Regions from separate parts of the Homo sapiens genome. Here region 2 is reported to be linked to region 1. Evidence: microRNA targets listed by miRTarBase, many of them from high-throughput screens and not tested one by one. Region 1 holds a microRNA gene; the other region holds the end of a gene's coding sequence.
Evidence for each region. The annotated mature microRNA hsa-miR-4794 reads UCUGGCUAUCUCACGAGACUGU and lies in region 1 at 2,037-2,058, opposite strand. An mRNA with a match to its seed (bases 2 to 7 or 8) in the 3' UTR can be bound and repressed. Matches are read on the target gene's strand: a 7mer-m8 pairs with bases 2 to 8, a 7mer-A1 pairs with bases 2 to 7 and ends in A, and an 8mer does both.

Region 1 (3,158 bases):
CGTTAAATAGAACAATACCTATCCATAAAATACCTTGCTGGAAAAAGGAAAACAAAGACTGTTGACATTATTGTCAGCATGACAGTGGGCATTGTGTGTTACAGAGCAACGACAATGACTGGGAGAATAAAGAGGAGAGACATTATCTGTTACTTGTGGTTCTGGGTTCACGGTTTTTCAAGGGGGATAATAACAGAAGGAAAGGAAACAACATTCAGTGTCTCCTGCTACACAGTCCCAGGGGACACCATTCTCAGTCTTCCATGTGAATGGCAATTCCTTGGAGTTGTACAATCCATATAAATGAAATGCACACTTAGAAATATACTTGTGTTTGGTCTGCTACACCTTTAAGATGAACAAATGTCTTTCTTAACTGCTGTGAACAGAACACTTCATCATGATTTACTTTCATGCAGGAATAATAAAAGCAAATTGGTAAGCATACTGCTTTTTCCTCCATTGTTCCCATCAAATACCACAGCTTCATCAAAGATCTCCAAGGAAAACTGTGTTGTTTTTTCTTCCCTTTAAACAAAATGTTACCCAAAGGAAATGACTGATAGAATTATAGCTAATTGGTTTTGTAGTGCTATTCATTATCATCACACTGGAGGAAAACTAATCATCTCCTTTGGGTCATGCGTCTCACACAATCCAATAGCTTCCAGGCTGAGAACATGGAGTCAAATCAAAATATCTTCATTTGTTATTTTCAAGCCAATTTTAAATCTTGATTTTGTTCCAGGGATATTCTATAGCTTTCAGGGTCTCAATTAAATAACTGAGGTTCTCAGCCTTGCTAGAAATTATATAAACTATAAAGTTTAGAAAAACTTCCAGACATAACAAAGGGATATGAGTATAATGTTTAATTGGATAATGGGTTGTCCAAATTCATTTTATCATTTTCAAAGGAGGAGTTGTGGGTCTTGGAAATGTACAAAATGACTCACAATACTCCCTGACCTAGACTTCTTACTATTAAAATAAAGTAGGTTTTCCTCATTGAGGTCATTGAATTAAAACATATAAACCCAGTTTAATTTAGACAACTGTTGGTTTTGCCACCCTCAGGGGACATTTGGAGAAAATTTTGATTGTCACAACTTGGTGGAGAATGCTGCAAAGTAGATAGATAGAGGCCAGGGATTCTCCTAAACATCCTACAATGCACAGGACAGCACCCCAAAACCAAGAATTATCTGGTTCAAATGCCACTAATGGCCCAGATGAGAAACCTTGAAACCTCGATTGATTGCTTTTTTAACAGGTGTTGGAAAATCACTTTTTAAGCAAAAAATTCACATTTTATTAAGGATATTAATATAACCCTTTCAGGGGTCCTCTAAAAATCTTTAGCAGTATCCTCTGATTGCAGTCAAATAATTATTAACCAGATGTTTTATTTAAGGGCTATTCTTGGGTATGATTCTGACCAATTTATTTTTTCTTTTCCAATTTTTATTTTAGGTTCGGGGGTACATGAGCACATTTGTTACATGGATAAATTGCACGTTACTAGGGTTTGCTGTACAAATGATTTTGTCACCCAGAAAAACTTTGATTGAGAGAAAAATCAGTAAATTATCCCAATTTGTAATTCAGTCAATAGGTTCCAAACTGTTCTTCTATTTGAATTCTCCACCCATCCAAAATGATAACTTATCAGGGAAAAAAAATCCTGTACATTTCAACAACTGCAATTTTTTTCATTCTTTGTTTTTCCTTCCCCAAAGCAATATTAAACAGGCCATCACACGTGGCCTAGATATGGAGAGAGGACTATTCACTCATTATCAAACGTGTTAACGTGGTTTTTAAACAGCAGCTTGCAACTAATCTAACAACCCTCTTTTCCTAGACTTTCACATTCAGTGGGCAGTAGAGGGTGTCAGAGCAATAGGCCCAGCTTGAAAACCTTATATTCTCATAATGCCCTGCATAAGCCATCTCATAACACACATTAAATTTGATGCTGTTTTTTTTTTTTAACATCTGGCTATCTCATGAGACTACAAGCACTGTTAGGACATACAGTCTCGTGAGATAGCCAGATGTTAAAAGATAACATACGATATATGTTTTTGTTCACCACTGTATCTTCAGGCTCTAGCACACTGCCTGGCATTATAGACATAGAAAAAATATTTAATGAAGTGATAAAGATTTTAAAAATTCATTCCTGAGAGTCATCAACCTTATCTTCTGTTCTAATAATCAACTCTTTTAAAACATACTTATTTTTAAAATATACAACAATATGTATTTCTGGAAGCTCCATCAAGAAGCAAGTTCTACCTTTTCTTTGTAGGTCCTGACTTCTGATAAAGTAAATATCATTAATTTCCCACATAGGAGTATTAAGTGCATAGTCCTTTATTGCCCTTGGGAATAAATGTTTTGTAACATAATGAACATAAGATGTAATTAAAAGAACTAAATTTTGAAATATCTTCACAAATTCACTTTAAAATAAAAACAAAATTTGTAGTCATATGTCCTTCTCTCTCACACACACACTCTTAATTCCACTTGAGAAATACCCAAGGGTTTCTTCTACACATTTGGAGGATTCTAACTTTGAAGAGTCAGATCTAGCTAAACTCAAGATATTCCAATCTGGTCCACTGCCTCTTTCTACATAGGCCATGAGCTAAGAATGATTCTTACACTTTTAAATGTTTTTTAAAGGAGAATATTTTTAATATTTAGTAGTTACATGAAATTCTAATTTTACTGTTAATATTTATTGGAACATGATCATTTGTTTACATATTGTTTACGGCTGCTTTCATTTTACAATGGCAGATTAAGTAGCTGCAAGAGTCTGTATGGCCTGCTTTGCTATAGGTAGAAGCCAGCGGCCCTAATTTATCCCCAGATGGAAACATAATCCCAGTGTGGTGCCATAATCCTAGTGTAGTGGTTTTATAGAAATTTCCTACAAATTCTTTAACAGGTCTACCCTTTGGCAGGTGGGGTCTACATGTCCCCCTGTCCCCACTGCTTAAATCTGGGTAGGCTTATGATGGCTTCTACTAGTGGAGTACAGAGAAAGTGATACTACGTGACTCCTAAAGCTAGGTCATAAAAGGACATGCCTGTCTCTTGGAACGCTTACTCTTGGTAGCTGTCAGCTACGCAGCTGTAAGAAG
Region 2 (3,094 bases), not on the chromosome of region 1:
AAAACTCATGAAAGGACTCACACGGCAGAGAAGCCATATGAATGTAAGCAATGCAGGAAAGCATTCTTTTGGCCCTCTTTCCTTCTAAGACATGAAAGGACTCACACTGGAGAAAGACCCTATGAATGTAAACACTGTGGTAAAGCCTTCAGTCGTTCCAGTTTCTGTCGAGAACATGAAAGAACTCACACTGGAGAGAAGCCCTATGAATGTAAGGAATGTGGGAAAGCCTTCAGTTCTCTCAGTTCCTTTAATAGACATAAAAGGACACACTGGAAGGATATTCTATAAGTGTATGGAATGTGGGAAAGCATTCATTGGTTTTATCACATTCAGATACTTGAAAGAAATAAATCCTGTGAATGTAAACGTGGTAAAGCCTTAAGAAGTTTCCAGGCTGGGCGCAGCGGCTCACACCTGTAATCCCAGCACTTTGAGAGGCCGAGGAGGGCAGATCACGAGGCCAGGAGATCGAGACCAGCCTGGCTAACATGGGAAACCCTGTCTCTACTAAAAATACGGAAAAAAAAAAAAATAGCCAGGCATAGTTGCTCACACCTGTAGTCCTAGCTACTCAGGAGGCTGAGGCAGGAGAATCCCTTGAACCCGGGAGGTGGAGGTTGCAGTGAGCCGAGATTGCACTACTGCACTCCAGCTTGGGTGCTAGAGCGAGACTCCATCTCAAAAAAAAAAAAAAAAGTTTCCATTTCTTTCAAATAGAGTTGCTGCCTGCTATATGCAAGAAGATTGGTTCCAGTACACCCTGAGTATACCTAAATCCACAGATGCCAGCTCTTTTATAAAATGGAATATTCGCATGTACCTACCCACATTCTCCTGTATACTCTATAAATGTCTAGATTAATTAAAATATCTCATGCATTGTAAAAGCTGTGTACATAGTTGTATTGTTTAGGGAATCATAAGAAAAAAAATCTATATGTGTTCAGTACAGACCCAACCATTGCAGGCCTATCTACATCGTATATATCACCTATAATGTTACAGTTTCTTGTTTCAATACTCAGATTACTTTTGTCTAATGACCTGAAAGAATGTGTTAACACCAACCACAATTCTGGTTCTTCTCTCTTGATAACCCAAGTATTACGATGGTTATGACAATGATGATTGCTGTATGGTGCCTAATGTGATGTGTAGAGGTGACTAGATGTGTGGCATCATAGATAAACAGTGAGACCTCAGGCTAACTTGAATCTTGACAGGACATCAAGACCTTCATCTATGTTGGAAGACCCAGGTTCTGATTGAAGATGTTGACTCTTTGCAGGAGGCTAATACTAATGTCAGCATCTGTTCAGCTTGAGGGCTGAAGATGTTTGTGTTGAAGGGTATGTCTTCATATTTGCAGATATTTAGTTAGAAGCATTGTTTTAGGAAGCTAGTTCTTTTTCTTTGAATCCCTAAAAAAACCTTAGTGTTCATTAGCATATTTTCCCTTATATGACACAGAAGCTTTTTTCAATCAAAGGATGTTAGCTGAGGTTGATTATCTTTAACACTTGCAACTTGCAGAGGCTATAGATGCCCCAAGATCTGCTGCAAATTTTTCGCGTGTCCAAATCAATGGCACTGCTCCTCTTCTTAATCTTCTGCATCATCAGCAGCATCATCATCATCATCATCATCATCATCATCACTTGTAGAGGATTTCAGTATATCTTCAGTTTCCTTTCCACCAACTTTCTTTGCAACATTTAAGATATTCCTGACTGCTGTATCAGTCTTGGGGAAACCCCTGAAATCACTTACTCCCTCACTCCAATGGCTTCCAATATGCTTTGGGTGTCCTGGGCTTTAGGGCATCTACAGCCTCTGCAGTAAGCACAGTTGCATCTGCAATTGTGAAGCTCTTCCATAAGTACACTGTGGTACAGTCAGGGTTAGAATCAAGGCAACATAAATTGTATAAATATTGAGGTGGGGCTGGGCACACTTGTTCACACCTGTAATCCTAGCACTTTAGGAGGCTGAGGCAGATGGATCAACTTGAGGTCAAAAGTTTGATACCAGCCTGGTCAACATGGTGAAACCCCATCTCTACTAAAAATACAAAAATTAGCTGGGCCTGGTGTCATGCGCATGTAGTCCCAGCTACTTGGAAGGCTGAGGCAGGAGAATCACTTGAACCCAGGAGGCAGAGGTTGCAGTGAGCCAAGATCCTACCACTGCACTCCAGTCTGGGTGACAGAGTGAGACTCGGTCTCAAGAAGAAAAAAAAAAAGTTGAAATGGGTGTAAATTGCCTTAATCTGCTTGATGATCCTTGACCAAGTGGCTGTGGCAGCGATAACAGTGTTAGAAGGCAAGAACATCACTTACACTTTTTCATCAGCATAACAGAAAAATTAAATTTTTGTTTTGTATTGAACATGAGCTTTGCTGGATATACGATTCTTGGTTAAGCTATGTTTCATAGCAGAGCATGATGAGAGTGTGTGTGAGGCTTCCCACTGAAAGGAGGAATGGAACCTAAGAAAGAGCAAATGTATCTATTTTACCCTAGTTATTTATCATTACAGTAGTCAACTAATGTCACACAACAATGATCAATATGAAGAATGGGATGGAAGAAGCAAATAATGTGGTTGGAGATTATAGCATTGTCTTCTTAGGAGACTGAAGACAAAACAACTGGAAATCTATTAAAACTGTGAAGGAGTCAATTTGCTGCTTATGGAGTGAGCATATCCTGTATTCATGATAGCATATACTATTGACTTAAAATAATATTTCTTGCAAATATATATAAATTTCTGAGGATGGTACTAATGCCATATGCAACATCTATTTGTGGACAAGTATGAGTGTTTTCTGATGAGATGACCTAAGTATCACCTCCATGGATATATATATATACAACTTTGGTGGATTGAAGTCTCCTCATCCCAGTGCTCATTGGGGAGAAATCCCATAATGTAAGTAATTTGGGAAAATCCAATCCAAATTAACTCATGTATAGTGCTCCAGAAAATTTGCATCATCAAAGAAATGTTATAACATTTATAACTATTGGCCAGGTGTGGTGACACAACATCTGTAATTCCAGCACTTTGGGAGGCTGAGGTGGGAGG

Region 2: the mRNA of ZNF44 is a reported target of hsa-miR-4794. Seed matches in the 3' UTR shown: 7mer-m8 at 536-542.

Annotation. Positions count from the first base shown.
Region 1 is chr1:64,578,755-64,581,912 of GRCh38, reverse strand. It overlaps MIR4794 (microRNA 4794), which reads right to left and starts at 2,066; the gene lies at 1,990-2,066. The region is part of intron 2 of CACHD1 (cache domain containing 1); the gene reads right to left. LOC124904195 (a long non-coding RNA gene) reads right to left here. Exons shown (of 2, transcript XR_007066150.1): 2 at 2,069-3,158.
Region 2 is chr19:12,269,604-12,272,697 of GRCh38, reverse strand. ZNF44 (zinc finger protein 44) reads left to right here. Exons shown (of 4, transcript NM_016264.4): 4 at 1-890. The coding sequence ends at 291. Among named protein-coding and RNA genes, the nearest start is that of ZNF44, 24 kb to the left of the region's middle.